5 separate regions of the Homo sapiens genome follow, and regions 2, 3, 4 and 5 are each linked to region 1. Evidence: fine-mapped expression QTL. A gene starts in region 1. Each other region holds a variant in brackets. All regions are shown on one strand. Distances are from middle to middle.

Region 1 (6,397 bases):
GAGGGAGACGTGATGTAATAACACATGAGCTGGGTCTGGCCTCAGACGGCCTAAGGTCCATTACAAGCTGTAGAGCTTTGGCTTGAAGAAACAAAGACAGCCATCTCTAAACCTCGGTTTCTCTAAAATGGTACTGTACCTCGCACAGTTGTCGAGAATTCAAATCCCATACCCTATGTATATCAGCCTGTCCATAATTAGTCACCCTGAGAAACTTTGCTTTCCTGGTCTAGACAGAATGAAAGAAACTGAGTCTGGACCCTGCCCTGTATATGAATTAGAATTTGTGTGCTTTAAGCTGCCCTCCCAGGGCACACCATGGTAAAGAGCAGGGAGCCTAGCTTGACTGTGTAGGTTCGGCTGGATTATTTTAAGCGTATCATTCACTCCCTCAGTGAAGTGAGGGAGTTAGACTAAAACACCTCTTGATATCTCTTCTAGCTTTAAAATTCTACGCAATCCACGGGGGAAGAAATTCAAGAAACCTTGCATACATCAAAACACCAAAAACCCCACTTTCCTTAAAAATGGTTTACAACGAACAGATCACCATCCCTGACATTTCAGGTTTTGCAGTTCACAGTTCACAGTACGGAGGAATGGGCTAAGTCACACTACAGCAGGCTCCCCTCCACGTCTAACAGAGGGGGCGGGGGGTTTTCTTGGAAGACTCGGCCAGTGTCAGGCAGCAAGGGGTAAGGGCTGTCTCGGTGGAGAAAGAAACCCAGGCTTCCGGGAACATAAACTGGGGGATGTAGGGGCAAAGCACCTGCTAAATCTCGTTAGGGTTGGGACTTCAAAGAGGGTTGGGCCTGCTCTGAGAAACAGTGTGGGAATCCCAGCCCCGACCTAAAGGCGACACGTTCACTGCCAAGGACTCAGAGGGAAAGCAGGGAGCGGGGAATGGACGCGGGAGGTGGATGCGAGAAAAAGGCCGAGTAGGGCCCCAGCCCCGGTCACTCACCACGAGCGGGATGGAGCAGATGAGCACCACCAGGGAGGTGGCAATGAGTAAGATGACCATCTGGATCTCGGCGCCCGCGATGCGGCGGAAGCTCCGGCGGCGCCGAAAGTCGCTGAGGCGCGGCAAGGCTGGGGAGGCAGCGGGGTGGCCCCGGGAGGCAACCGAGGCGGCCGCGGCCGCGTGGTGCTGCTCGGTGCCCAGCGAGGTGCGGCGCATGAACTGGCGGTGCATGCGGAGCAGCGCGCCGCACACAAGCACGTTGCAGAGGACGGTGGCGAGAATGAGGAAGGAGCTGAAGCCCGCGTACATGTAGGAGTAGGCGGCGTGCGCCGTCACGTTGGTGGTCCAGTCGATGAAGCACCAGGTGTCTGGGTACTGCAGCCGCGAGCTACCGAGACCCATGTTGGGCAGCGCGCAAAAGAGCACGTTGGACGCATAGACTGCAAAGAGCGTGAGGCCCGCCAATCGCTTGTCCACGTAGTGGCTGTAGAAATAGGCATGGTTGATGGCCAGGTAGCGCTCGACACTCATGGCGCAGATGATGCTGAGGCCGGACAGGCTGAAGAAGAGCAGAATGAAGGTGCTGTACTCGCACAGCGGCTGGCCCCCGGGCCATTGGCCCTTCATGTACGTGGCGATGGTCACCGGGCTCACCAACAAAGTGCCCAACAGGTCGGTGACAGCCAGCCCACATACCAGCGTGTAGAAGGTCGTCTCCTTCTGCTCCTTGCGCGACTTGCACAGCACCACGATGGCCACCAGGTTGCCCACCACCCCGAAGATGAACATCACCGCCGGGATGGTCACTGGGCTGTTCAGCCGGTCGGGGCTCAAGGAGGCGGACGAATTGACCCCGGGAGTGGACATGATAGTGGCTGGCGGTGCGCAGCCTTGGAGTGCAAGGCTGGGTCTGGGGATGGTAGAAGAGAGACAAAGCTGCCGTGAGCGGAAATTACCACTTGTAAGGTGTTAGACCCGCGCCCGAGAAACGATACACTGATAAGACAAGGGGAGCAACTCGATCCTACTTTCTGGATTGTAGCCACTTACCAACTGCGGCCACCAAAATCTCCAGGCTCGCGATACGTCCTGCCAACAGCACACTCTTGCTGACATTAATATTTATAAACTGATTTTCCCATTCCTCTTCCTCCCCACAATCCAACTCACTCCATTGCCAAGATGAATAAGACCCATCTCAAGGGAAAAGTAGCTCGCTAGTGCTATTCTCGATAGATTCTGAATCAATAAAATGCTCACTGAAAACAAGTTACAAAAGCAATTTGGAGAGCGCGCTCTTCCCTTCTTGGCTCTCTTCGGCGAGGGCCGCATCCCTGCGTTCTCTACCCGTTGACCCCAACGTCAGCCCAACGCCATCTCACCTGTAGCGGCAGCAGCGGTGGCAGCCTCACGAGCCCCCAGGGTCAGCCCTCAGATGTCCTGGACCCGCCTCCAACCTGCTTTCACCTTGTCCTGCTCAGTCTGGAAACTGCCAAATCTTCGGCTTCTCAAAGCCGGTCTCAGTGGCTGTCGATTTTTGGACACCGAGGTCAGAGTTGCCAGCTTTCAAAAACTTGGGAAACAAGAGGTGCAGCGGGATGGGTCAGTGAAGAATGGTGCTGGATTTCTTACTCGCTATTTTTTTTCCTTCAAAGACGAGTCCCAGCTTTGCAGTGCCCGCCGGTCTCGTCTGCGGGAGGACAGCGTTCAGGTGTGAGGCTGTGCGCGCAGGTGGCGCGGAGCCTTGGTCCCCAGCTCTGGCTGCCCTCCGCCCCAGCCACGGGCAGCACGGGCGGCTACTGGAGTTTGCGGCTGCCGCTGAGGCCGCTCCTGGCTACCTGGGGGCGGCTCGGGGTCCACTCTGCCAGAGGCTCTGGCCTGGGGCTGTTCATCTTCCTCTCGGGCTGCCGGGCTTGGAGCTCCGCTCTCGCCTTTCCACCCTCTGTACAAACTTTTCTCCTCCTCCAAGTTTCCCTGGCGGAGGCGGAGGCAAACCGCGCGCTGCCCGGGCGCCCATTGGCCGGATTGGAAGGGGGCGGAGCGCGTCCTCCCTGGGCGCCGCAGGGAAGACTGGCGGGGGGCGGTGTCTGGGCTGGGGCGGGGCTGGGCGCGCGGGGTGGGGCGGCTCCCGTGGTTTTCACGCCCTCGGAGGTGCGGAGTGGGAACTCGGAGGGGACCCTGGGAAGCCCCGGTGCTTTCCCCGGCGACCGCTTAGCCGCTCCTGAACTCGGCTTCCAGTGGGGCCACCACTGAAACCGGCGACCGTTTCCGCCTCGCTGCCTGCCGCTCGGAGTGTACTATTTCTTGAACCTCCTGTCCGCGGGCCGCAACATCTAGATCGTGGAAGAGAGGGCAGTTGTTTTAGGATTCTACCTAGGGTTGGCCGAGAAAGGAGAAGAAATACGGTGTCTGCGCTAGCGCGTGCGCCCCGGGGTTAGACTTGGGTGCGCCCAGCGGACGTGGTAGGTGGGTGGGTGGGTGGGTACCAGATTGGGCGGGGAAATAACGAAGAATCCATCCTCTCACCATAAAAGGAGTTGGAGTCAGTTGGCAGTGCCCAGACTGCGGGCTGCGCTTGGTCGGGCACCCCAGGCAAAAAAGAAAAAAAAAAAAGAGAAAGAAAGAGGAGGAGACAGTGATTGCAGCCTCTCCCGGCGCAGGTGGCAGAGCCTTGCGGCTTTGGAGAGAGGTGGAGCCTTGGTGAGGTTGGGAGGACTGCCTAACTGCGATCTTTTTCTCCATTCTTCCTCCTGGGAACTTCTCCGCCCTGAAAGGGTAGCGTGAGCTTCATGCCTTCGGCCGGCCGTGTTATACTCGTTAGACCCAATTCACCATGAATCCTTTGAAAGACTAGTGGAGAGTGAGAAGGGGGTTTCAAAGTCACTGGAGTAAAGGAATTCTCCAAGCACCACCTCATGATTAATTCTTGGAAAAGCCTGTTTGCGCGGCCCTTAGAATCATTTTGACTTCTTGTCTAATGGTGAAGTTTTTCTCTGTAATCCTTCTACTCTGTTTTCTAAAACCAGAACTAAAAACCTAAAAAATTGTAAAACTTCATGGTGTAATTAAAACCCCTTCACCATTTTTTTTAAGTAAGATTGTGTGGCCTTATTGCACAATTTAAATTCCTGGAAAAACCTCTTCCCATCTGCAGTGTACAAGCATTCTAACATATTATGTCTCCTCACAGGGTAAGTAAATAACTGGATTCTTTTATGTGATAAGCAGGTACCCATTTCTTAAATGTTATTTCGTGAACGAACAAACCTCCTAACTGGTTCTTCAGTTAGTCTCAGCAACACATGGGTAATAAGAGAAACTAAAAGGGCTTTCCGATTTCAAGTAATTACAGGTCATAAAATATCCAGAATCATATTTACTTGCAAAAGGCACTATATGGATATACTAATAAAGAATTATTCTGTTTATACTATTTACTTAATAATATGAGAAAGAAAAATACACATTTGTTAGCCAATATTAAGATTGATGGTGATTGGTCATTTTCTTAAAAATCTTCTTTTAATCAGTACTCTAATCACTTCTGTTGTCGATGCTTCCTTTGAACAGTAACCTCTAGGATTGTGTCAGCACAGAAAACAAATCAACATTAGAAAAAAGGAAACTGCACACTCTGCGCCATTCCTCACTAACCACATTGCTTTGCTATCACTCATGTCAGTTGCTTGTCAGTAAATATATGGAGGGGAGGTTGGGAAGTCCCTTATATTCACTTTCTGCTAATACAAATTTTTTTTTTCAATTTTCTTTCCATATGAAGCTTGTAAAAGAGAAAACAATTGGTTGCTATTTATTAATTTAAGAATGATGAAGAATATATTAAATATAAAAACTGAGACACACTGCTGAGATAATTAGTAACTGTTACAGGTATTAGCATGTCATTGACAAACCAGACTTGTTATCAATTGAGCTATTTTTCTTACTAGTCCTTTGAATTTTCTTTCTACAGTAGCTTTAGGAAGAAGGAAAATAAATAACCTAATGCTCAATACTAAAAAATTGTAATGAGGTTTATCTGTAGTCTCTTTTGTTGTACGATTCTTAAAACTTAAATTTAGCTTTCAAAAGTAGAAGTTGAAAGTTTAGGTAGCAAATTATTTTATTTTCTTAGTTTGAAAAACTGGGACAGTGGAGCTCAGTTTCTCTTACACTCTGCCAGGAATTTGCATTGCAAAAGGAAAGGAAAAATTGCCATAATTATGTGGGCAATTCTTGTCATTTTTTTTCAATGAAAAGATTTTTATTCTAAGCACTTTAAAAATTCTCCCTCGCAGTTTCTGCCACAATCCCTACTTCTCTATGCTGGAAGACCCCAGTTCAGTTATTTAAAACTGTCATTAAATAACTCTCTGAAGGTTTGAACTACTCCAAGAACTGTTTGATCAGTTTGATTGCTCTGTTATAGCTAATTATTTGACGAGTTTTTTGAGTAAACATATTAAGGTGGGAACCCATTTATAAACAAAGGCCGCTTGGGAGCTAGTAACCACTTTTAGTTTTCCTTGGATCAAAGGAAATATGGGACAGACAGGACCTGGGCTCAGCCAGCAGGAGTGGGGTGAGAAAGGGGATCATTTCCAGGAGGAAGGCAGCAGGATGAGTCAGATCTGGCCTGGACCCCTTCCTGAGCCGCAGCTGGCAGGATCTTAGAGCATTCCTGAAGCACTAATATTCATGTAGCAAAGCCTGTGCAAATTGTGTTTGCTTTTCTCTTTCATGACAGGCCATGCAGAGACTCAAAACAGTGTGAAAGGCATCTATCAGGTACAAATAGCAAAGTACCCTTGGACACATTTGCCCTCCACAGGCTCTTCCAGTTGGTTTAGTGGATTACAAACATGGCATTCACCTGACCCTAAGATGACTGCCTTCCCTTTTTAGTGGTACATTTCAAATGTGTGCCCTCTTAATTATTTTCATTTTCTAAGCATGAAGTTTATGCTGAGCCCAATGCCTGGAGCTGACACATGTCAGTGCTGTGATTAACTCCCCAACATCTTCATGTGGTGATAAATTACTGCTGTGGAGGCTGGCCCCTACTGAGTGATTGCTTCAGGCTGCTCTGACAGCCTGCTCTGACAATTACACTCCTCAAAGTAATAGCTTTCTGCTCTTTTATTCTGCTCGCTCCCTTTTTTTCCCTCCAGTTTCACCACACGCCCATGTGGATTGGACCAATGGGCAAAGAAAGGAGATTATTTACCTGCAGTGGCCTTTTTTTTTTTTTTTTTTGAGACAGATTCTCGCTCTGTCGCCCAGGCTGGAGTGCAGTGGTGCAACTTGGCTCACTGCAACCTCCGCCTCCTGGATTCAAGCAATTCTCCTGTCTCAGCCTCCCTAGTAGCTGAGATTACAGGCATGTGCCACCTTGCCTGGCTAATTTTGTATTTTTAGTAGAGATGGGGTTTC
Region 2 (6,397 bases), 300 kb after region 1:
GCACAGTAGTTACAAAGGGCAAGAGACGAGAAATATGAGGCTAAATTAAACAAGGGCTAAAATTTTAGATGTTATTTAGCAGAAAAGTTATGGTAAGGGAAATATTATTTGGGATTGTGCTTCTTCTATACATTACCTCATTCATCTCTATGGTAACCCTAAAGACACATTGCACAGGCATTCTTCCCAATGAATGCATGAGGAATCTGAGGCATGAGACATTTAGTTACATAACTGACTCTCCAGCTCATTTAAGGCTGGAGATAAAGTGAGAGCCAGAACTTTGGTTCTGAATTTTCTTTGAAAGATTTTCTGGGATCTCTTCTAGCTGTGTGATTGTTATGTGTAGTTTTAAGCATTTATGAGCATCTTACCACCATTCCCAAGAAAATGATCTATGAAGAAAATTGTCTTAATCAGCTCAGGCTGCTACAACAAAATACCATAGACTAAACAAAATACTATGCAATTTGAAGGCTGGGAAGTCTAAGATCAGAGCACTGGTAGATCTGGTATCTGGTGAGTGCACTCTTCCTAGTTTGCAGACAGCTGTTTTTTTGTTATATCTTAACATGGCAGAGAGAGATGATCTCTTGTTTGCCTCTTATTATAGAGGCACTAATCTCATTCATGGTGGAGGATGAATGAGATTAGGGGATGGTTCCACCATCATGACCTAGTAAGTTCCCAAAAGTCCAACCTCCCAATACCATCACATTGGGGATATAGGCTTTAATATGAATTTTGGGAGGACACAAATATTCAGTCCATAGCAGTTGTGATGTACAATATCTCTTCATATCATTTTAAAAAAGGAACAATGGATAGGCTTTTAAATTTGTGTCTTAGCTGTCTTTCATCTAAAATTACCAGTTCTCAAGTACTCTGCAATTTAACTGCTTTCAGAATTTCACTGCCTATCTATTGATGGCATTTTAACTTTCTGGAGCCTGGCAGCCACAGTCACTTAATTAAAAACATATTTGTTTTATTAATAAAGTAGTTACCATTATTTATTATTCAATTTTCAAAATATGGTTGATAATGAACACTCATGGTTTCTTGTTGAAGCAGGTAAATTAGGAAGAAGATCAAGTCTCTCTGAGTTGAATTTACCTTATAATCAGCCTGAAAGCAAAATAAACAATATAGTGTTCTAGTGTTTGAAGGACATGCCATCATTTGCTAAGAAAACATTTAGGTTTTTGAAGATTTTGTAAAACAGTTTGATCCTCTATAGTGCATATTTTGTTACACACATTTTTTTTTTTTTTTTGCTGTGGTCACTAGTAGTGAGGGAGATGTTTATTGGGCTAAACCTAAGGAACTTCGATCACATTGGAAAAATGAGAAGAACAAATAGCAACAAATCCTCCACACATACTGATTGACTTGGACACAGTCTCTTCAGTTTACCTGTGACAGTGTCACCATGGATCATCCTGCAGGCATCTGTTTATCCTCCTTCTGTCAACCTTCAAGTAAAGGCTGTATCTGGAATGTCCTACATTTCCCCATTTATGATCTTTCAGCCCAGATTTATCTTAAATCGACTGAGATTTTCAGCCTATATAACCTTTAGGGATAATAATATCTGGAAGTTTGTCACCCTGTAACCAAAGTAGCACTTTATAATTGAATCAATAGACTTGATTGCATTCTCTAAGAGATTCAGTCTGAAATTTTGTCTAGTTAGAGTCATAGGTCTGTTTCTCTGAAGGAGGTAAAAGAGGATTCATCCAGCCAGTTGTGACTCTCAGGTAAGAAATTTACTTAAGTAATCCATGTGTACTCTCCACCTGTGAGTCTTTAGGTGGCAGTTATAATTTGGTACATAGATGACCTTGTAAGTTTGTTTTAGTCATAGATACTTTACATAAACATAAGTGTAACAGAGGATATTTATTCATCATAAAGTAATGTTCTTCTGGTGGCCACACCTTTAAGGAACATAATATAGCACAGCTTTAGAATGAAATAGTTACCAGATGACATCTTTAAGTGACTCATTGTTTTTTGAAGATCTTGGGGATAAAAGTTCAAATGATATAACTTCCAGGCAAGGGCAATTTCTTGATTATAAAATGATTAAGAAAAAAAGTTATTATATTGGAAGTCTCAAATTTTATCTTCTCACATATTTTTGTAGGTTGTATTATGCATACTGTCAACGTAGTCTCTAATGTTTTATACAAACTCTCAGGAGGAAAGGAGCTAAGTGAGTGGGAAGGATTTGCCATGAGTCATTTGTAGTAATGGTAATGGTATAGACGTACTATCTGGCATAATTAAACTGGTGATGGGAGGTAGAGTTCTCTTGTGTGCACTAAATTCCATTGTTCAATGCAGAATTTCTTAACTTCTCACTATTTCATTCACTCTTTGAGTGCGCCTGTTTTTGGTCAAAACCCGAGGAGTTGTTGGTGGAGTTAGATCGGTTAACAACATCATATCTGTAAAATGCAGGTGACACAATTACAAGGATCATTTAGGGGTGCTTATTACATATATTGTACGTACATATATAGTTCCCCCAGACTACTAAACCAAAATTTCCAATGATAAGACCCAAGAGTATGTATTTTTTAATGGGAACCTTAGACTATTCTTATAATCACAAATTCAGAAACTTTTATCTTAACTAGATACTGTAGGAAAAGCATCTACGTTCTTTTAATTACAGCTAGTACTTTCATTATATTTCAAGTTTTCAAAGCACATCTCATCTCAATTTGTTGTGTAAAGTAGGCAGGGTGAGCATTTTTACCTTGATTTTACAGATATGATATTGTTAACTGACCAAACTTAGCCAACAACTCTTCAGGTTTTAGTTGAAAACAGGAGCAATCAAAGAGTGAGTCGTTGAGGATTAGCCACTCCCCATAACTGCAAGCCCAGGTTGTAATGACAGCATATTTCAGATAATGGTCTATTATACATATGGACATTTATTAGAGGAGCAGGCACCAAATGAGTCTGTAAGTCTGACGAAGTTCAAGTGAACTATCATTGGAGGTTCTTTAACAACACAGAAGAAATATTCACCCGAAGCACACATGGTGACATTCAGAGGTTGGCTCTTGTGCCGTCCTAAACTATTGGCTGGACACCAACTCATTAGTGACTAAAGTCAGTGCTTTCCCTAAGGAACTCAGGGTATAGGTCTCAGTGGTTTCTTATGAAGACAAAGGTGGAGACTGTTTCTAAAATATTTAGTTATTCCAAATGTCTCAAACACTGTTAATTTCACCAGAGAGGGAGCCCAATTCTAACATTCTTCATGCTAATTTTCAAGTCACTAGAATTTGTTACAAGACTGGTCCACGGATCAGCACCATTGACATAACCTGGGAGC[T/G]TGTTAGAAATGCAGGTTCTCAGCCCTGCTCAAGACCAGCGTCTTCATTTTAACAAGATTTTTTGTGATTCAGAAGCATGATAAAGTTTGAGGAACACTGTTCTATAAGTCAGATGCCCCTTGTTTATGCCTTCTAATATACCATAAAGCTGTGATCTGCCTCTATTAGAGCATTTACCATGTTGAATTACAGAATTCATACATTTTGCCAGTTCTACTAGGTCAATTATTATGTCTTACTCATTTCTGCATTTCTATCACATGGCATATATTAGATGCTCAATTCATGTTGAATGAATGAATAAGAAAACTTTCACATGATAAAATTAGTTTTTCAGATCCAATTGTAGTTTTCTCAGATTTATAACTGGCTATGCATCCTCACACACTTGAAGTCAAAATGTGATTAGAAGACAGGGTAGTGGCCAGCTTTCCAGGGCTACCAGTGAGAAAGAAGTAGGTATTGGACCTAGGAACCAGGAAGTAATGGCATGATAGGAAACTCATGAGGGACGGCTTTAGTCCACAAGTAAGTGGATATTGGGAGAAGGTAGAGTTACTTAAGGGGACTGCTATGGAGGGTTTGTGTCCCTCCAAGATTCATGTTAGACCTTAAATCTCAAGGTAATGGTATTAAGAGGTAGAATCTTTGGGATGTGATTAGGCCATGAGCACTCCACTCTCATGAATGAGATTACTATCCTTATAAAAGAGGCTTCAAAGAGCAGTCTGCCCTTCCATCCCATCTGCCAGGTGAGAACACAGCAATTGTACCTTTGGTTTTCTCTACCATTTGAGAACACCATGAGAAAATGCCATTTATGGAAAAGGCCCTCACCAGACACAAAATCTGCTGGTGCTGTGATCTTGGACTTCCCACCCTCCAGAACTGCGAGAAATAAATTTCTACTGTTCATAAATTACTCAGTCTGTGGTATTTTGTTATAGCAGCAAGAATGGACTAAAACAAGAATCATATACACCAGTGATTCTGAATATGTTTTCTGCCTCAAGCCACCCAAGAGATTAGGCAGATTTCCAGCAGTAAGAAGAACTAACTATAACAGAGTTTTTCACTGGAAGCTCTCCCTCAACCATATATAATTCTGCTACAACTCATACCCATATTTTCTGCTAGACTCACTGAGATATGCTGTTGGCTTAATGTCCGGTGTTTTGAATGGGGCAGGAGGGCACTGAGAGGTAACAGTTACCAAGAGCAAATACTGTGTTTGGAATCAAGTGTTTGTTATGGATGGTTGGATTTAGGTGTCTAACCTGGCAGATTAGGCCTAGGTGTCTAGGAATTCAACATCAGGAAACAGCAGGTTATAAGAGGACTCATCAGATGAGGTTTAGCCCAAATCCAGAGACCCCAGGCATGTAACACCTGAGCTGTACCCATTTTATATTTTCTCTCTCTATTAAGTCTCCTTTGGGGTAAACAGTGTTAACTAAAGGCCTAATAATGGCTACAGGTGGAGAGAGAATTTGGGGCCACCATGGAAATGTGAAACAGTATTGGCACCTACCCAGAATCCAGTGGTTAGAGAAAAAATAATGTCCACCCTGTAATTAAGAAGAAAATATTTCTCCTCCTTTACTTTGGATGGTCCTTAGGGGTAATCACAAACCTGGGCTAGGGGGAGCTGAGGGATAACATTTAAAGAGTGGGGAAGGGGTTATGAAGCTTATTGAGGCTTTTGGCCTAAGGCCGGATATTTAAAATAGCATGCCTAGGGAAGGCAGGCAGGCACTATTCAAAAACGAAACTGAATGGAGGAGGCAGTGGTAAAACGAAGGGCAGATTCCCTGTGTGAAGGGTCAGCTCCTACTGATAATGCCTGGTGGGAATCTGTGCTTATTTCTCAAACATAGAAAATAAAAATCTATATTTTAAAATAAAACGTCTCTACTTTTAAACCTTGGCAAATAATTTCAAAGGTATATGAAAGGTATTAATGCTGTGAAGGCTAGAGTCAGTCTGATGGTTGCCAGTTGGTAACATCTGGCCTTAGGAAACTTTTTGGATGTAGGAACTTCCGGACTTCTGTCTTGTGAGTGCTTTGGGGTCTCTCTTTGTGTTCCTTAGAGAACCACAAAGTGTTGACTAGAAACCAAAGAGAAGGAAATGAGAAGTTGGTTAGTTAGTGCTTGTTGTAGTTGAAATGAAGTCAGTCATCTCACTCTAACCACCGTCTATTAGGTTGGTACAAATGTAATTGTGGTTTTTGCCATTACCTTTAATGCACTCACTTTTGCACCAACATAATAACTCACCAAAATAAAAAGCAACCAAACATAAGTGAAACCAAATGAAAGCCAAAATCAACAGCCAAAAACCTCAGCTTCTTTCTCAGTGCCTCCATAGATGGCACAAATTATCTCCTTCATTACCTTACTGGGAAATCTGGTAGTCTTTTTTTTTTTTTTTTTTTTGACTTTTTTTTTTTTCCTTACTCAGGCTTCTCATCCTATCATTATTCAGGTCCAATAGATTTCACCCTTGAAACATCCACAATTCATCCTCTTCCTTCTTCCTTCCTATTGCCATTGTCCTATATTCGATTCTACCATACTTTGCCTAGAATACTCCAAAGGTCTTCTTATTACTATGTCTAACATATTTCAGGAGGAAATGAGATAAACAGGTTCAATAAATTTTCTTCCAGGACACTATGTTTGTGGCCAGGGTCTGTGGTTGAATCCACAGGTAGGACTAAGCAGGTTCTTCTCACCTGGAATGGGCAAGACACAAGACCAGAATGTTTTTAGCAATGGATGGGTCTGGTAGAGTAATTCCTGACTTCAGAATTAGAACAGAATAACACACAGGTCAATTCTGTCTGGGAAGTCCCTTGTTCGCTTGTAATTACCATGGCTTAACACTGGCTATATATTCATATATTTATGAAAATAAGTCATAACATAGATGAGTTTATGCAAAATATACAATAATGAGATGAACTAGGTCAAGTGATGATTGTTTTATACCATCTGTCTTACCAATCCCAATGGCCTGTTAGAAACTTAAATGTTATT
Region 3 (6,397 bases), 280 kb after region 1:
CTTGTAAGAACGAACTCACTGTCATGAGAACAGCAAGGGGAAGTCTGTTCCCATGATCCAATCACATCCCACCAGGCCCCTCTTCCAGCACTGGAGAATTCGACATGAGATGTGGGTGAGGACACAGATCCAAACCATATTAGGCTCTTACTGTTAATCTTTCCTCAATGCATTAAAAGACTTGGGTTACAAATCCAAGCTAAGATTTTCACTCAGGAAATTCGTGCATAATCAGACATGCGAACTTTGTTTTTTCTCATTGTACCAGTCTATCAAGGGGCAGCTTAACCCCCTCGGCTTGTATAAGTCCTAGTTTTGGGTATTTACAGTATCTTGTCAGCTTAGCGATATATTCTTTTTTCCTAATATGGTTTCTCCTTTGCCTACAAAATTCCCAACTGCTCTAAGGCAATTGCAATCTGTCTTAGTCTGGTAGAAATGAAAAACCATTGCTTACCTTTAAACACCCAGAAAATTAAAAAACAAAAACAAAAACAAAAATAAAACCCGCTTTCTTCTTTTGTTTAGCTAAGACTCCTTCTCATTTTTTTTAATCTATTCCCCATTAAATCCTATTTCTTAACCCTTTCTTCACCACTCACTTTAAAGATCTCCACATATACCTTAAGGCAGAGATGTAGGCTGAATTTCAAACTCCTAACATCTTACTTACCAAAACTGTGGCAAGATTACACATGTGAGTTGCCTTTTCCTGGCCTTATTGTTCATTGACCCACAGAAGTGGTCTCCTGTGTCTGATACTCCTTTGACCATCACCCATCAACCAGGCAATCACCTTTGGGATTCATCAGTTGCCTAATGTTGCAGAATTTGACTTTAGGTCCAGGATCTTTGCCGTCTCTGGGGAAGTATACTGAAAAAGGCATTTTACATCAGGGGTCTACTAAAATTGTCAGCTTTCTAAACCTAAATTCATCTCTTCAGGTTTGTAATTCAGTTGCTCTAATAAACAGCAACACAAAAACAAAAGCAAGACAAAAAAAGAAACAAGTTCCTTACCTTCTTACAAATACACACCCTTGTGAAATCCGGTCTGGTCTCTGTACAGGCAGCACTATGTTGGTAAGCCATTATCTCTTACCATTCTTTCAAGCCCAATATGATTAATTTTATTCTTAAGAATAGAAAACTACAGCTATATGTATATGTGTATTATATATGTATATGTACATATACATATATGTATATATATACAGCTATATGTATATGTGTATTATATATGTATATTATATATGTGTGTATATTTTTTCCACAACACAATTTTAAAAATTGATTCTTCCCATGACATTGTTATAATTATCATCCTCATTAAATACTTGTGAAATATCTACCATATGAATTGCGATAGGCATTTAGGCACAATGGTGAGTGCAAGGAATTCTATAAATATATATGCACTCAGGGGCCTTGAATTTAAGTTGTTCAGGCAGATGCATTATTCACAAAGAGGTGAATGACTATCCAGATAGGACACTGTGAGTGCCCAAGTATCTGGAGAAGACTGGAGTTCATGCCATGCCTGTGGACATGCTAATGCTCTGAAGGGGTCTTAGCTTCTCTGAAGTGAAGTGATTGAAGGGTAGGGTAGAGTCGTGGTAGAGAACAGAACTGAAGCACAGGGTCTGAGGCAGGTGGGGGGATGGGGAGATGACTGCTTGACAGATTCTGTTTTTTTCAGAGAAGCATAGAGAAGATGAATCACCCTGACATAACACAAGTAGCCTAGGAGGAAGAGTTCTGTCTGTGGCCATGAGTTGTGTAGCCTCAGGCAAGTCATTTAATGTCTTGGAATTTTAGTTGCTATCTTTGTAAAATGAGGGTTGGTTTACTCTTTGAAATGGGGACAAGTTCTGAGGTGGAAGCTTAGCAGGAAAAGTCTAAGCAATTAATTTGTGAGACAGAAACTATACAGATTGCTTTCTGCTCGGTAATAAAACTATCAAAAGATCATCATTCTAAGGTACTGCCAGTTTGTAATCATGATTGGAGGATAGACTTGGTGGGAGGCTGTAACATATGTGTTAAGAAACACAGTGAAATGGAATTAATAAAACAGGTAAGATTAATAATGACAGGTCTTAGGTAGTTGGGGAAATGTCTGAGAGCTTAATCAATGAAGTGATAGAATCTGAAGTTTAAATTTATGATTTAGTTATCTTCTGAATGTTCTCATTATGATACAGTGAGTCTCCCAGACTGTGGCTTTTAGGCTAAGCAATATTATGCGTATTAAGGGACACAAGGGATTTGACTGTGTCA[A/G]GTTTCAGTAATGATGATTCTGAGAGCTCCATTAAACATCTCTGCTTTCCTCTGAGCTAGAAGGCAAATTAGGCAGCAGTAAATGAGGCTTGAAGGAAATAGAAATGAGCAGCAATGGTCACAGCGAAAGTGAGATGAGGCCATGCACACACAGGCATACAGGGAATGAGAAGCTATTTGAAAACGTGACTGGGAGGAAATGCTTTGTGAGAGGAGCCTTGGAGGAGAGATATGTGTGAATCATGGCCAAAAATCAGCTCAGTGGGAACCTAAAAAAACATGATGTACAAAACTTAAGGAGCTCAATTCCGCTTCAGCACTGTAGGGTGACTATAGTTAACAATAATTTATTGTATATTTCAAAATACCTGGAGGAGAAGACTTGAAATATTCCCAACACAAAGAAATGATAAGTATTTGAGGTGATGGATATACTAACTACCCTGACTTGATCACTATACATTGTACCCCATACATACGTACCTTTTTAAAAAACTGTACATAAAACTGTACAATATATAATGATATGTATATGTATACAATATATGATAATATGTACATGATAAATATGTATAATGACACATATGTATATACTTACCCCATACATATGTACAGTTTTTTAAAAATAAGGTAAAGGAAAGTCTAACAAGGATTGTGGCCTTGAAAATACTATAATTAAATCATTAATTCTCACCTTTAATTCACCTGGAAGAGTTTACCCTGCTCCCCTATCCCATCCCATTCCATTCCAATACACACATATTTTAGGTAAACTGATTGAAATTTTTTTTCTATTATGGAAGTTGGTTGTCCCAGGCCAAGAAAATAACCTACCCTAAAACTGTATTTAAATGCTTGAAAACTTGAGTCTCAAAAAGGGATGCAAATATGAAGTTATGTCCAAAATTCCCACTCATTAGAGAATGTAAATGAGAACAATATTGAGATAGCATCATTTTGCTGATCAGACTAGGGACAAATAATCATGCATAGATGGTATTGGCACTCCCACCCCCACATCCTTTTGGCCGATCCCAGAGTTTGTCTGCAGACATTTCTCAGACATGACAACAAATTCCTGCACCTTTCCTCCAGTGGGCTATCTTTGGACACAGGAGCATGCTTTGTCCCTGCACAGGTCAGATGGGAAGTAACTGAGCCAGAATGCCTTGGAGTACCTCCAAACTACTAAGGGCTGGTGAATAAATACTTCACATCTTTGCCTTTTGTTGGAACAATCCTAAGTTGTGTTCCATATGGCCTTTCCATGGGTCTCCAGAATAATTGAGCCCAATTGCCCATACAGTAGGGTAACCAACTTATCTCTGCTTTTCTAGAACTGTCCCAATTTTAGCATTGGAAATTCTGTGTCCTGGGACACCCCATTGATTCCATGCAAACTGTGATAGTTGACCACACTACGAATAGAGGTAACTGGCTAGTCAATGTTCTGTCTATTTGTTCCCCACTTCTTGTCTTACTCCTTGCAACCTCATAGTGATTCCTGGAATTAACTTCAAAATAAACTACAGATGCTCCCCCATTTACAATGGGGTTATGTCCTGATAAACCATTGTAAGTTGAAAATATGACTAAGTCAAAAATGCATTTAATATACCTAACCTACCAAACATCATACTTTAGCTTAGCCCACCTTAAACATGCTTGGAACACTTACATTGGCCTATAGTTGGGCAAAATCATCTGGCAACACAATGTACTGTACAGTACTGGTATTTTTACCTTTGTGTGGCTGAGTGAGAGCTGCAGCTTACTGCATGGCCCAGCATCATGTGAGAGAATCACACTGTTTTCTACTGAATGTCTATAGTTTGTGCACCATTGTAAAGTTGAAAAAGTATAAGTGGAATCATTGGAAGTCAGTGACCATCTGTATTGCCTTCACATTTTTGTCTCAGGACCTGCTTTCAGGGGAATTCAAGTGAAGCCAGTTGATGATATCCACACTGTGAGGGTGTAAAGAAATAAGGCGACTCATACATTGTGTGGAAAGCAGAAATTTTCATAGCCCTTTGGAGGGTAATTGAACAGGCTTATGAAGTAAGAAAGTAATATGAACTGTCAGTGTGACTCTAAAGCTCATGACTTGCATTTTAAAAATGCATACACTTTGAATCAGGAATTCTTTGTCTAAGACTTTCTTTAGTAGTAATGCCCAAATGAGCACAAAGATGTAAACATGAAGATGTCCTCTGTGGATTGTCACACAATAAAAAAAATTAAAAATATCTGTCAATGTATGTCAAAATATCACTAGTAGGGGAATGATTTAGCAAATTTGTAGTATAAGCATTCCATAAAACACTATGAAGCTATTAAAAAGCATGAGGTCAATTTGTATTATACTGGTAAGAGAGACGTTTATGATATATTAGTAAGCAAAGATAATCAAATTAAAAATGTGTATCATGCTTTCTATATATCTGCATTTTTTCTGTCTCTTCCTGGAAACACGTGTATACACACACACACACACACACAAACACGCAAACACACAAATTATTAACATAATACCACTGGAGTGGGAGTTGACTTGGAGGTGAAGGTGGAACAGAAGAGGTTATGAAGGAAATTGCCTCTGTTTATTTAACGATGATAATGATGAAGTTTCTTTTTACAATGGGTGCATATTATTTTTAAAATGGAAAAAATAGAAAATGCATTGCATTTGGAAATGAACACCTGAAGTATGCTTCATCATTTTAATTTTTCATAAACTCCATCAATATTGGCAGCAAGAGAACTCGAGATTTGAGCTGTATGTTCTTCTATCTTACATATACCAGTGTAAAAGTGTGTTGTAACCAAATTTAAGCATATAGGTAACCTAAAAGGTAATTCATTAGATAAATTGTCCTATTGGATAATTGGTAGATATCCAATGGCTGTTGACACCATTGTGTTATAATCAATTGCTTGCTCTTTTAAAGATGAGAAAGACCACATAGAACATATATTAGGCCGGTGCAAAAGTAATTGCAGTTTTTGCAATCGAAAGTAATTGTAATACTTCAAACACTCATTATAGTTTTCAAAAGCAAAGAAGAAAAACCATAATTACAAGGGCAAACAGGAAATTAAAATCAACTCTAGATGTATACCTAAACCTCTTCCATTTTTTTTGTTTCTTTATTCAGGAAATTAAATGATGTTGAATGACAAAGATCTGCAATCTCTCAAGTGGTTGAGAGGAAGTATGACATTGACTTAGGAGAAGACTATGGCAAATGATGCTGTAGTCAGGAAGAATGAATAGATTTGAAAAAATACAGAGAAAAACTAACCACAGAAAGAGTCAACTCATTGTTGCCTATGGGTGTTTTTGTCTCCAGTTTGTTTTCCATAGACTTCAATGAGTGTGGATGGGTTTGAGAGATTATGTACTCCCTAGTCACAGTGAATCTAACAATGAAGTAAGAAAGACATGTGGTTGGCGCTGAGAAACATGGTCTCTGCTTGGCCATGTGATTATGAGCAAAGCATCCTCAGCTTAACCTTCTGTAGACTGGGAATAATTATGTTAACTACAAGTTGCTCTGAAGATTAAATGAGAAAATGTACACCAAATCACTTGGTTTAGATAGCACTACTCGTGTTGATTTTTATTATTATTCTATTTCAATTTTTTAAAATTCTTGTGTTGGAGTGAATAATAGTAAGAAAACCAAAAAAACTTAAGTAATACATGATTTTTGTAAAACTGCTCCTCATGACCTTTAACATGATCAATGTGGCTGGTAGATATCCATGGATACTCAGGAGGAACAATTAAGCTGACATTGATAAGAAGCAGCAAATAGTGTCTATTAAACCTGCTTGGTTAATAATATAGGGTTAATTCATTCAACTGGTATTTATTAAGTATGAACTACGGTTCATGCACTGTTTTAGATGCTATGGACAGACAATATTGAGTACAACAGGGATTCCACCCCAACAACTTAGAATCTAGTGCAATTTAAAAGCATTAAAAATAACAATCATAATTCCAAATAGAATACCAACAGCTGGAATCAGTCAGTCCTTTTTCCTACTAAAATCTCTTTAATCATACCTCCAAAACATGGACCCTAACTATAAAAATACAGAGATTTTG
Region 4 (6,397 bases), 110 kb before region 1:
GACCTCCTGGGCTCAAGCGATCCTCCCACCTCTGCCTCCCAAGTAGCTGGGACTACAGGCATACACCACCACGCCTGGCTAATTTATGTATGTTTTATAGAGACAAGGTCTCACTGTGTTGCTTAGACTGGTCTTGTATTCTTGGGCTCAAGTGATCCACCCGCGTCGGCCTCCCAAAGTGCTGAGATTACAGGCATGAGCCACCATGCCTGGCCGGATATTAGCTATATATCTGATGCATGATTTGTAAATACGTTTTCTCAGTCTTTGGGTTGTCTCTTCACTCTATTTGTTTTTGCTTGTTTGTTTGTTTTTTTGAGATGCAGTCTCCCTCTGTCACCCAGGCTGGAGTGCAATGGCGTGATCTTGGCTCACTGCAGCGTCCGCCTCCCGGGTTCAAGCGATTCTTTTGCCTCAGCCTCATGAGTAGCTGGGACTACAGGTGTGCACCACTACGCTCAGCTAATTTTGTATTTTTAGTAGAGATAGGGCTTCACCATGTTGGTCAGGCTGGTCTCGAACTCCTGACCTTGTGATCCGCCTGCCTCGGCCTGCCAAAGTGTTGGGATTACGCGTCTGGCCTGTTTGTTTGTTTTTTGCTGTTCAGAAGCTTTTTAGTTTGATGTCATCCCATTTGTTTATTATTGCTTTTGTTGCCTGTGCATTAGGGGATCATATACAAGAAATGATTGCCCAAACCTGTGTCATGGAGCTTCTCGCCTAAGTTTTCTTCTAGTAGATTTGTAATTTCAGGTCCTAAATTTAATCCATTTTAAGTTGATACTTGTTAAGGGGTGAGATAAGGGTCCATTTCCATTCTTCTGTATGTGGCTATCCAGTTTTCCAAATGACATTATTGAAGAGACTGTCCTTTCCACATTGTGTAGTCTTGGCACCTTTGTCAAAAATCCATTGATTATAGATATATGCATTTATTCTGGGCTATCCATCCTATTCCATTGGTGGACATGTCTGTTTTTATGTCAGTGCCGTGCTGTTTTAATTACTATAGGTTTGTAATATATTTTCAAACATGGTAGTGTGATGCCTCCAGCTTTGTTCTCTTTGGACCTAAAGTCTATTTTGTCTGAAATAAATATAGCTATCTCTGTTCTCTTTTTGTTTGCATTTGTATGGAATATCTTTTTCAGTCCCTTCATTTTCAGTCTATGAGTGTCCTTTATGGTGAAGTGAGTCTCTTTATAGGCAGCGCAGAGTTGGATCTTGTTTTTTATCCATTTAGCCACTCTATGCCTGTTGTTTGGAGAATTTAATCTGTTTACATTGGAAGTAATTATTGATAGGTAAGGACTTAGTAGTGCCATTTTGTTAATTGTTTTCTAGTGTTTCTGTAGAACCTTTGTCCCTTTCTCTATTACTTTCCCCCTTTGTGGCTCGATTGCTTTCTGTAGTGGTCCACTTTGGATTTTTTCTTTTTATCTTTTGCAAAAGCAAAGGCTTTTGCTTTGTAGTTACCCTGTGGCTTACACAAAACATCTTATAACTGGTATATAAGCTGATAACAAGTTAACTTTGATCACATACACACATTCTACATTTTTACTCCCCCTCTTCCATGTTTTATGTTCATGATGTCACGATATACATTTAAAAAATAATTTGTATCTTTAACAAATTATTGTAGCTTTATTATTATTATTATTATTATTATTATTTTGAGATGGAGTTTCACTCTTGTTGCCGGGACTGGAGTGCAGTGGCGTGATCTTGGCTCACCCCAACCTCCACCTCCTGGGTTCAAGCTATTCTCCTGCCTCAGCCTCGTGAGTAGCTGGGATTACAGGCATGCGCCACCACGCCCGGCTAATTTTGTATTTTTAGTAGAGACGGGGTTTCTCCATGTTGGTCAGGCTGGTCTCAAACTCCCAACCTCAGGTGATATGCCCGCTTCGGCCTCCCAAAGTGCTAGGATTACAGGTGTGAGCCACCGCGCCTGGCTAGCTTTAACTATTTTTAATAGTTTTATCTTTTAACCTTTATACTAGATATATAATTCATTTACTTACCACCATTACAGTATTAGTGTGTTTTGGGGTTGACAGTATACTTACTTTTTCCAGTGAGTTTTATACTTTTCATGTTTTCCTGTCACTCATTAGTGTCTTCTTTATTCAGCTTGAAGAAGTTTCTTTACCATTTCTTTTTCTGTTTCTTTTTGTTTGTTTGAGACAAAGTCTCACTTTGTTGCCTAGGCCAGAGTGCAGTGGTGAGATCTTGGCTCACTGCAACCTCTGCCTGCTCTGTTCAAGTGATCCTTCCACTCAGCCTCCCAAGTAGCTAGGATTACAGGCGTGCACCACCACTGGCAGCTTTTTTTTTTTTTTTTTTTTTTTTTTGTATTTTTAGTAGAGACAGGGTTTCACCATGTTGGCCAGGCCAGTTTTGAACTCCTAACCTCAAGTGCTCTGCCTGCCTCGGCCTCCCAAGGTGCTGGGATTACAGGCGTGAGCCACCATGCCTGACCACTGTTTTTCATTCTTTATCCTTTTTTCTTCTTCAGATTGTATGATTTCCAGTGGCCTGTCTTCTAATTACTAATCTTTTCTTCTGCTTGATGTAGCCTGTGGTTGAACCCCTTTATTGAATTTTTCAGTTCAGTTATACTATTCCTCAGCTCTATGATTACTGTTTGGTACTTCTTTAGAAAATC[C/T]ACTTTTCAACTGATAAACTAACTATATCCATTTCTAGGGCTGCCGTAACAATGCCACAGACTCAATGACTTACAGCAACAGAAAATTATTCTTTGCCAGTACTGGAGGTGAGAAATTTGAAATCAAAGGGCCATCAGGGCCATGTTTCTTCTGAAGGCTCTAGTGGAGAATCTGTTCCTTGCCTCTTCCAGCTGCTGCTGCTTTTTTTTTTTTTTTTGAGACGGAGTCTCACTCTGTCACCCAGAATAGAGTGCAGTGGCATGATCTCAGCTCACTGCAACCTCCGCCTCCTGGGTTCAAGTGATTCTCCTGCCTCAGTCTCTCAAGTAGCTGGGACTATAGGTGTGTTCCACCACTCCTGGCTAATTTTTCTATTTTTAGTAGAGATGGAGTTTCGCCATGTTGGCCAGGCTGGTCTCGAACTCCTGACCTCAGGTGATCTCCCCGCCTCGGCCTCCCAAAGTGCTGGGATTACAGGCGTGAGCCACCGTGCCCAGCCCTCTTTCACCTTCTTGTGGCTCCTGATGTTCCTTGGTTTGTGATAGCATAACTCCAGTCTCTGCCTCTGTCTTCAAATGGCTGCGCTCGCTTGCTCTCTCTCTCTCTCTCTCTCTCTCTCTCTCTCTCTCTCTGTGTGTGTGTGTGTGTGCTCTCCTCTTCTTGTAAGGATACCAGGCATTAGATATAGGGCTCACCCTAAATCCAGTAAGATTTCATCTTCAAATCCTTCACTAGTCACGTCTGAAAAGATCCTATTTCCAAATAAGATAACAATCAGAGATTCTGGGTTGACATAGATTTTGTGGGGACGTTATTCACTTCACTACACTTGTTTTTATATTTTGTATACTTTTAGTTTTATGCTTTCTTTCTTAGTTTTTGAGTAACTTTTAAATTGGTTTGATAGAATGTATTAGTAAAATGTCTGTGGGCTGGGCGTGGTTGGTTAATGCCTGTAATCCCAGCACTTTGGGAGGCCGAGGGGGGGCGGATCACCTGCGGTCAGGAGTTCAAGACCAGCCTGACCAACATGGTGAAACCCCATCTCTACTAAACATACAAAAATTAGCCGGGCGAGGTGGTAGGTGCCTGTAATCCCAGCTACTTGGGAGGCTGAGGTAGGAGAATCGCTTGAACCCAGGAGGCGGAGGTTGCAGTGAGCTGAGATCATGCCATTGCACTCCAGCCTGGGCAACAAGAGCAAAACTCCGTCTCAAAAATAAAAAATAAATAAAATAAAATAAAATGTCTGTGGAATCCTAAGACATTGAAATTGATATGAGGCAGGTTTTCAGTACACTGGATTCATGTTCTGATACAGGAAGGAGGTCATAGTAGCAGTGCCTGGCACATAGTAGGTGCTGGTACTCAAATATTTCTTGAATGAATGAATTTGTATGATTGAATGCATTTCTGGATAATTCTTATTACTACAAGGAATTCAGTCTATTCTTTTCAAAACTGTATATACATTAAGAATTTCTCTGATATGTTTAACTTCCATTTATGTTTTATTAAAAGGATGTGTATTTTTACATGTCTTCTGAGGATTATCTTTTTAAAAAAATCAAATTTCACTTAACCATGTTCGGAAAAAGCATAACTTTAAGAGTCTGACCTGGGTTGAAGTTTTGGCTTTTCCACTCATTAGCTGTGTAACTTTGGGCAAGTTATTTCATCTTTCTGTGCCTCAGTTTCCTGTAAAATGTTGCTAATAATGCCAAGTCTTCCAGGTTGGTGAGAGTGTGTCAGTATGTTTGGGTACAAAGTGAGTATGCTGCAAATATTAACTAGTAAGTTGTATACTTTAATTATGTATTGTAAAGGAACTAGATTTATGTTGTAAAAAATTGTTTTTGTTAAAAAAAGAGCCCTTGTTTATTAAAACTCACATCAAATTAAGCTGCTTTTTTCCTCTGTGTTCTTCTGTGACCAAACAAGTGTTCCTGTAGTAGGTGAAATCACTGTCAAGGATTGGTGTTATGTGTATATATGTCTGATAGTAATCTGTTGAACATTAACCAAAGTCAGGAAATGAGTTGAACTTTGGAAGGTAGAAATCTGAGGATTGGTGGTAGTGGTGGTGGGGTAGGAGTGGTGGAGCGGGTTGGAGGGATTGAAGTATATGGGAATGGGAGCTAGATACATTAAAATGACAGCTATTATTTATTTAGCACTTATGTACCTGGATAAAGGAATGCTATTGCATCTACATGGATAGGTATCACCAATCAGAGCTGAGATAAAACTGGCTATTCAGAGATTAAAACAAATAATTCAGGGCTGATTAGATACAGATGGGGGAACAGGTCTGGGAGCAGTGGAAAATAAATAACCCTAAATAATAAAGGCTACCATTTATTTATCAATCACTTGCTATATGCCAGGCATTGTGGAAAGTGCTTTACAAACACTATTCCATGTATCTGTTATAGTCACCCTTATGGAGTATGTGGTATTCTTATTTTAAAGATGAGTAAATAGAAGGTTGTAGTTTCTTTAACTTGCCCAAGTCAAACATCTAGTAAGTACCTTCAAACAGGAATAAAACCGAGGTCTGTGCGACTATAAAATCTATGCTTTGTATACATACTGCTTTCACATGTGCAATTGGAATTAGGGGTTCAACCCTATTCAACTCTACTTCCAAAAAAGGTGAATCTGCTAATACTACTTCCAATTGTTTTTTTCCCCTTTGGAAATTTTTTTTTTTGAGATGGAGTCTCGCTCTGTTGCCCAGGCTGGAGTGCAGTGGCATGATCTCCGCTCACTGTAACCTCCGCCTCTCGGGTTCAAGCGATTCTCCTGCCTCAGCCTCCTAAGTAGCTGGGATTACAGGTGCGTGCCAACACGCCTGGTTAATTTTTTTTGTATTTTTAGTAGAGATGGGGTTTCAGCATGTTGGCCAAACTGGTCTCGAACTCCTGACCTTGTGATCCACCCACCTCGTCCTCCAAAGTGCTGGGATTACAGGCTTGAGCCACCGCACTCGGCCTTGGAAATTTTTTTTCTAACTGATAAGAATACAAAGCAGCAAGTAAAATTCAAAAAGGATCACAGTGGAATAACTTTTCATTTTAGCATATTAACATTTTTATATGATTTTTTTGTGTAGCTAAAAAATGTAAAATGCATATATAATTTTTTTTTATGTTTGTAAGAACATTTTCTATAGTTTTCCTATGAGAGTCTGTTAGGTTGGAATAACAATGTATTAAACTGTTCTCTGAAATTGGTCAGCCTTTTGTTCTTACATAATACACTGTAATGAACATATTTATGCACATTTTTTTCATCAACTTTTAAATCAAATTCTTAGAAGGAAAACTACAGATTAAAAAAGAAAAGATCCTGATCATGTAATTTGTGTGTGTGTTTATGAATTTGAATGATCTCTTGGCATGGCTGTCAGGGCACTGCCTCTATTCCTGCCACTGTGATACGATCATACTTTTGTGATTTCTTCTATTACTTCAAAAGGGAAGAAGTTATACCACCATACTTTAAAACAATTAATTTATAATTTGATGAAATGCTCAAGTATTAGAAAAAAGTTTTATGGTATATCTTGATTGGTTATGGATTTTGTTCTGCTTATTATGCCTTCTTTTGGGTGGTTGGGGGGCTTCTGTTATTTACAGGTGGATTAATATTCTGCTCCGTATTACTCATGAGTTAAATTATACTCAATTCCCTATTCCGTAGTTACCACCTTCCCTCCTATT
Region 5 (6,397 bases), 270 kb after region 1:
GTAGAGTTGGAATCTCAGTTAAAAGAGGTGGAAATATGAGCCAAATATATCTTTGATTGAAACAGAAACTCCCTTTCTTTCCTTTTCCCTTCCCCACCCTCACTTCCTTCCTTCTAGCTGCCAAATTTGTGCTGTTGCTGTGGTTTGGGAAGCTATGATTACATAAGCACTGCTCTTGTCTAAACAGGCTGTGTCCATAGTGTGAAAGCTAGGCTCATTCATATAGAAAACAACACTAAAGATAACAGCAAAACTTGACATCCACATTCGAAATTTTAAACTTATATTCTTTTAATGAGAGCGAAAGCAGTAATTAAAAAGGGCATGATTGGGGAGTGGGGGAGGTGTACAAAATTTACTTTAAAAATGGTACTGTTGACTGTTGGAGGCTTCTGATTTTTTTACGTTAAGCAAAATGGAAATAGTTGATTGAGACCCTAGAGAAGAATCATGTGATCTGAGTGAAAAGAAATCCACAGCGATTAGTCATCCAGTTGATGTCAAATAAATCACACAAAATGTTGCCTGTATATCGTGAAATGACTTTCTATTTTTTCCCCAGAGCAGACTACTCTTATCTTAGGTTGGTTTCCATGCATACCTAATTCCTGTTGTTTGGTGTCTGTGTGGACAGAATGATTGAAACAGCTGTGGACTTGCCTGACACTAAGTCATCAGCTATTGGAAAGAGTGCTTTGAACAAAGACATCATGCGCTGCCTGAAGGGAAGAGGAAGCCACAAACAGCATCAGAACATGAAGAAAATGTAGGTCACGGCTGCTACCCTGGTGATAGGGAGTACACTTTTATACCTTCATGACGTTGAAAGCATGAGAAGGATGCAGGGGGAATATACACCAGGAGACACATCATCTCTGAATACAAAGCGTAGAAATGTGTGTGTCTCAGACTTCCTTTTTCTTCTGAGTTAGCTCATTTAAGCAATCATATAATCGTACTTGGCGGATGGTGTGGGGCAGGGTGCATGTTTGTGCACTGTTACTGTGGAGATCTATTGCATATATTTTTAATTTTTACAATAGTTTTTGAAGGCTCTTTATATAAAAACAAAGCAAATACAAAACATTAATATACAAAGCATCAAGTCTTTAGCAAGTCTTTTGCCAAAATGAGCTTATTTCAGCATAAAGTGGAATAGCAAAATTTAAAGGAAGGGTAGGTGGCAACCTGATGAACTCCTTTCAATAAAAAGGATGTCCTAAATTTTCTTCTGTATTCATTTCTGTGCTTCCAATTTACTTGGCTCTAGATGTCTTAAATATGCTCCATGAACAGCTTTACTCGAAGGCACTAGGAATTTACAAAGGGGGAAAATTTTTAAAAAATATTGTCACACTGTTCTTTCTCCATGAAGTCCCACTTTCGCTCTTTGAGTGCTTCTTGCTGAATGTTTGCACAACATCCGGCTGCCTTTGCAGACGTGCCCTCCCACTCATCTCTATGGTTCCTTCTCTCCTTCCTTGGGCTGAGTCCTCCCCTCCTCTGGGGTCTTGATGCTTCCCAGAGCTCCTCCCTGGTAAAACTCTAAGCTGCTCTTGCAGGCTATAAGTTCATGCCCTTCCTTATGCATGGAGAATACTGGAAATAGAAGGCAGGTTATTTGTATCCATGACAATCCAGAACATTAAATTCGTCTGATAATGCTCTTTAACTTTTTGCAAGTTCTACCTGCTTTAGGCCCATCTGATAAGAATTTTAAAAAGAGGTTGGCAAACTATACCTGAGGATCAAATTCAGCCCACTGCCTCTTGTACAGCCTGTGTATTAAAGACCAATTTTATATTTTCAAATTGTTGAAAACAATTAAAAGAAGAATAATATTTCAAGACACATGAAAATCATGTGAAATTCCAATTTTGGCATCCACAAATAAAGTTTTATTGGGATTCCATTGCTTTCATTTGTTTATGTATTGTCTAAAATGTTGTTTTTGCACTACACTGGCAGAGTTGGCCTACAAAGCTGAAACATTCACTCTCTGGCTCTTTACAGAAAAAGTTTGTCAACCTCTGATTTAAACCAATTTTAAAATTTACATATTAATTTGCTAATGGTACACAAGAGAGAAAAATTTCCCAGGGCAGAAATTATATTTTTATCATTATTAAAACCTTAGTGGTTAACACAGTGATGTACTTGTAGCAGTTACTCAGTAGATATTTGTTGGAGAGATTTACAATGATCCAGCTTCTATGCAGCCTTTGGAAGAATATCTGTTTGGGGAAGCTTTGCCAGCAGGCAAGAGATTCATGTCTTTTCTCCTTAGCTTTTCTCTTCTCTGTATACATGTTGTGGAACATACACACCTAGAATGTAATCTTCTTTTTAACTGACCACAAAAATTTGGAATTTATCACACTTTCCACAATTGGAGATTTTATTCTAAAAATTATGTACTCTACTCAGAGGCTGTGTACTGGTTATCTATTACTGCATGCAAGTTACCCCAAACCCAGTGATTTAAAATAATAACCATTTTAATAAATTATTTATTTATATGACATACTTTTGTGGATTAGGAATTCAGGCAGGGCTTAGCTGGGGATTCTTCTGCTCCACACGGTTTCACTGGCATTACTGGAGAAGTATTCAGCCGGTGCCCAGGCTGCTCTGGAGGGTTCTGTGCCTGCTGCCTTGATGGGGATGGTGGGAAAGGGGGCTCAGCTGGCCCCTTCTCCATATAGTCTCAGGGCCTCTCCGTATGATCTCTTGAGCAAGGCAGTCAGAGCTGTGGCGGCTCAAAGCTCCCAGAGACCAAGGTGGAGACTGCCAGTTCTCTTAGAGTTAACGCCCAGAGGGCAGAGTGTCATTTCGGCCACACTGCATGCATCAAAGCAGTTACAAGCAAGCTCAGATTCAAAAGGAGGGGAAATAGACCCCATCTCTCAAAAGGAAGAGTGTTAAAGAATTTGTGGCCATCTTTAATCTGCCATAGGGCGCTTCTAGTTTGATTTTTAACTTCACTTATTTCCGTTATGTAGGACAGCCTCCTTTGTCCTTCTAACATATTATCTTTCTTAAACTGTCTTTTATGTTCTCATTTCTGAGCCCTGGAATTGTCAGGTGTCTAGACAAAGAGAGGACCAGCTCAGACTGGGCAGGGTTATGAGGGAATAGCCAAAGGACACTGGGTACCTTTTTCAGAAAGTGATTCTTCCCCAAAACAGTCTACTTCACCTCCTAAAATACTTAAAAGAGAAGCTAGGAGGCCTGCAGGCCCACCCTGAACCCCAGCTCTCCGGGAGAGAAGTTCTAAACTACATTCCTATATACTATACTTAAGGACATCTTACATAATATCATTTGGAAGATATACTTTTTTTTTTCTTTGAGGCAAGGTCTCACTCTGTCACCTAGGCCAGAGTACAGTGGTACAATCATGGCTCACTGCAGCCTTGGCCTCCTGGGCTCAAGTGATCCTCCCACCTCAGTCTCCCGAGTAGCTGGGACTACAGGTACCTGCCACCATGCTCAACTAATTTTTCTATTTTTTGTAGAGTGGGGTTCCACCCTGTTGCCCAGGCTGGTTTTGAACTCCTGGGCTCAAACAGTCTGCCCTTCTTAGCCTCCCAAACTGCTGGGATTACAGGTGTGAGCCACCACACCTGGCCTAATTTATTTTTTTCATTCATTGGAAAGAAGAATCAGCCCTGTCTTTCACTGTGTAGAAATAGCTAAAGAAAACACAAGCTAAGATAATGTCAGTTTAGGGCCTGGTTTATAGAATTTTTTGGAGAAAATCTAGTCACTTGTAACACACAAGAAGAACACAAATGATAAGCACACAGGATATAGATATTTAAATACATCAACATTTTATGGACAGGTAAGGTGTTCCAAACACTATAATATTTCTTCATCATCTGGGGCACTCCTTCTGCTGTGGTTTGATGACCAGAGAGGTCAGCAAGGTTATAGCCATATGTAGATTCACCAGCTGAAAGAGAAATCCAGACCCTTCTGCTGCCTTGCATCTGGTTTTGTAATTGTATTTCCTTTTCTTTCAGCTCTAGGCCTTGACCTGCCATAACAGTTGCTTTCTCTTTGTGCCCCGAGGGGAACTTGTTTTCTTCTCCCACAGCTAATGCCTGATAGCCTCCTTGTACATTTCCCCTGTTGGTCAGAGTTTTCAGTAACTGAAGCTGTTGTGGCCAACACTGAG[C/A]GGCCACAGCACATTGTCACTGTTGCATATAGGCTCCCGTACTTCCTTGTTCTATAAAAAGTCACATGAGGTTGTGGGGCCAGATTGTAAATTTTCTCCAGGCAACCATAAACTCTTAATGTTTTCACACAGAGAAAGGAAAGGGCCTGTCTTAGTGATGAAAATAGGAGTGTACGTTTTTCTTTTCTTTCTTTTCTCTCTGATGCAGAGATGGATCAGAGCAAGGTCTCTACATGGTGAAGCAGTTACTCAAAAAATTGAGGCTGGGACTGGAGAACTGGTCCGCGGTTCCTGTCTTTGTTGTTGGTGGTGTTAGGCATGTGTGTTTCGAGAACTTTGAACATGCAGAAGAGTTTGTACTTTTTGTGGCTTGTCTGGGTTCAAACAAATGTACAGCCTTGTGAAGAGTCATTTTCATTGGCTAAAAACGAACTCTGCTTTATTATTATCAGATAGTGTAAACAGAGATAGAACAAACCTTTGAAAAATGCTTTATAATGTAGTGGAGAGCTAAACCATTAATAATCCATCTTTAAAGATCTGAAAAACATCTGTGGTAAGATCTTGCCAGGAGGAGAGCTTTTCTATGAAACAGCTTTTCCTTTATTTTTCTTCATGGCAGAATTGATATTTAAGGGGGACCTTCTTGTTGAAAACAATTAAAAGAAGAATAATATTTCTTGACATGTGTTTTCATAGTCCTTAAACTCTCTTTTTCTTCAAAAATATTATATAGTTTCTGAAATTGGTGGATCCTCTTCGTTAACTCACTCTGAATTATTCATAGTCACTACGATTGTCCCTCAGTTAGGAGACTTTGGAAATCCCCCTGACATCCTTTCTTGCCAAATTTGTCTGGTTGCCTGCCTACAATATTTTTTTCCTAATCTGACTAGGCATCTCTGACTTACTTTAGCACATGCAGTGTTTCAGAGTCTGATATAGTAGCACGCTACACAATTTGAAAATAAGCTTTCCACTGGGACAGTGGCCTCAAATTGCCTCAAAGAACAATTCAAGTTCTTTAGATATGGAAAGGGAGCTCTGAAGAGCTATCATTTCTTACCTGGTATAAGCAGTTGGGGAACTAATCACTAGGAGTTTTATCCAAACTTCTCTTGGTTTTTCAGGAGTCATTGACAGGGTGGTTTTTAAATCTCAGCCCTCTGAAAAGACAAATTTTGTTCTTCATTCTCTTGAAATTCCAAAGAGGTTATATTACCCTGAATTCCCTTTCAGCTTCTTGTGGTGTCTACTTGCCGTCATCGCAACCTACCACCTTGGTACTAAACATGGGTCCCGGTCCCTCCGAGCTTTGCTGTGTGCTGGTGGCCAAGAAAGTCCTGATGAGACCTAAAAGAATAGAGCTGACAAGGGTGTTTGTAGTCTAATCAGTGACTCCTAAAGACTCCAAGCACAAAATTCAAAGGTTGACTTTTTACCAATGTACTTTCCTTTTATATTTTAGGATGACATCTTCACGAATCATAGGAAGGTAACCTTGACAGGATCTGAACTCAGAGCTGTTTAGAAAGATGAAAAAAATACACACTTTTATTTGCTTTTGGAAATGCTTGTCCCAGATCTGACAAGTGGCCACATGTGACCAGTTATGATGAAATGCAGGAAATAACTTACGATAACCCTGACTTAAGAATGTGAACATCCTCCAGCATGCTTAAGTCCAGCCTACTGGGTTCTTTTTGGAGTCTAAGGTCAGCTACAGCTTTTTGATCCATAGAACTTGATGTCCATTTCTGGGGAAGGATAATATGGTTTAGAAATTCCATTAAATGGCTAGAATGGTTACTGTTCTTTTTCAAGTCCAGGTATAAAGACAGAATTAAATACTTTTCCTTGTCATTATCCATACTTAACTTTCACAGTTTCATATTATTAAAAATAAATTGTGATTTACCTCTACCAACTTCCAAAAAGAAATCAAAGCAGAATGCAAAAGCATTGTCAATGCAGTGCCTCATGTTGATGCCACTGTCCTAAGATCTTCCTTGCAAAGAAAGGATGAATTTTTTTCTCAGCAAATTTCTTCTTCTGGCAACACCTTACACAAGGAATACTGAATACTTTATTTTTTAAAGTGGAATTGTGCCAAACTCTACCAGTTCTATCCAAGTAGAAAAAATAGATTTCCTCATTTTACACTGCCTCATGAACTATATGTATGTATACATGTGTTTCCTAATCTTCATAAAT

Evidence for each region. PIP is the estimated chance that this variant, and not a neighbour inherited with it, causes the effect.
Region 2: its variant is the best candidate, but not a certain one, in a credible set for the expression of PTGER4 in whole blood (INTERVAL, PIP 0.64).
Region 3: its variant is the best candidate, but not a certain one, in a credible set for the expression of PTGER4 in whole blood (TOPMed, PIP 0.55).
Region 4: its variant is the best candidate, but not a certain one, in a credible set for the expression of PTGER4 in whole blood (TOPMed, PIP 0.65).
Region 5: its variant is the best candidate, but not a certain one, in a credible set for the expression of PTGER4 in whole blood (TOPMed, PIP 0.72).

What each region holds. Positions count from the first base shown.
Region 1 is chr5:40,676,428-40,682,824 of GRCh38, reverse strand. PTGER4 (prostaglandin E receptor 4) reads right to left here and starts at 2,910. Exons shown (of 3, transcript NM_000958.3): 1 at 2,347-2,910; 2 at 965-1,874. The coding sequence starts at 1,831. RefSeq lists an enhancer at 1,365-1,892 and a silencer at 3,028-3,247.
Region 2 is chr5:40,377,715-40,384,111 of GRCh38, reverse strand. No RefSeq gene overlaps it. Among named protein-coding and RNA genes, the nearest start is that of LINC00604, 140 kb to the right of the region's middle. The variant T/G (reference allele first, on the strand shown) is at 3,356.
Region 3 is chr5:40,397,472-40,403,868 of GRCh38, reverse strand. No RefSeq gene overlaps it. Among named protein-coding and RNA genes, the nearest start is that of LINC00604, 160 kb to the right of the region's middle. The variant A/G (reference allele first, on the strand shown) is at 2,281.
Region 4 is chr5:40,782,747-40,789,143 of GRCh38, reverse strand. All of the region lies in intron 1 of PRKAA1 (protein kinase AMP-activated catalytic subunit alpha 1), which reads left to right. All of the region lies in intron 2 of LOC124900968 (a long non-coding RNA gene), which reads right to left. Among named protein-coding and RNA genes, the nearest start is that of PRKAA1, 12 kb to the left of the region's middle. RefSeq lists a cis regulatory region at 4,682-4,695 and an enhancer at 4,616-4,760. The variant C/T (reference allele first, on the strand shown) is at 2,672.
Region 5 is chr5:40,404,841-40,411,237 of GRCh38, reverse strand. No RefSeq gene overlaps it. Among named protein-coding and RNA genes, the nearest start is that of LINC00604, 170 kb to the right of the region's middle. RefSeq lists enhancers at 4,484-4,543, 4,856-6,055. The variant C/A (reference allele first, on the strand shown) is at 4,184.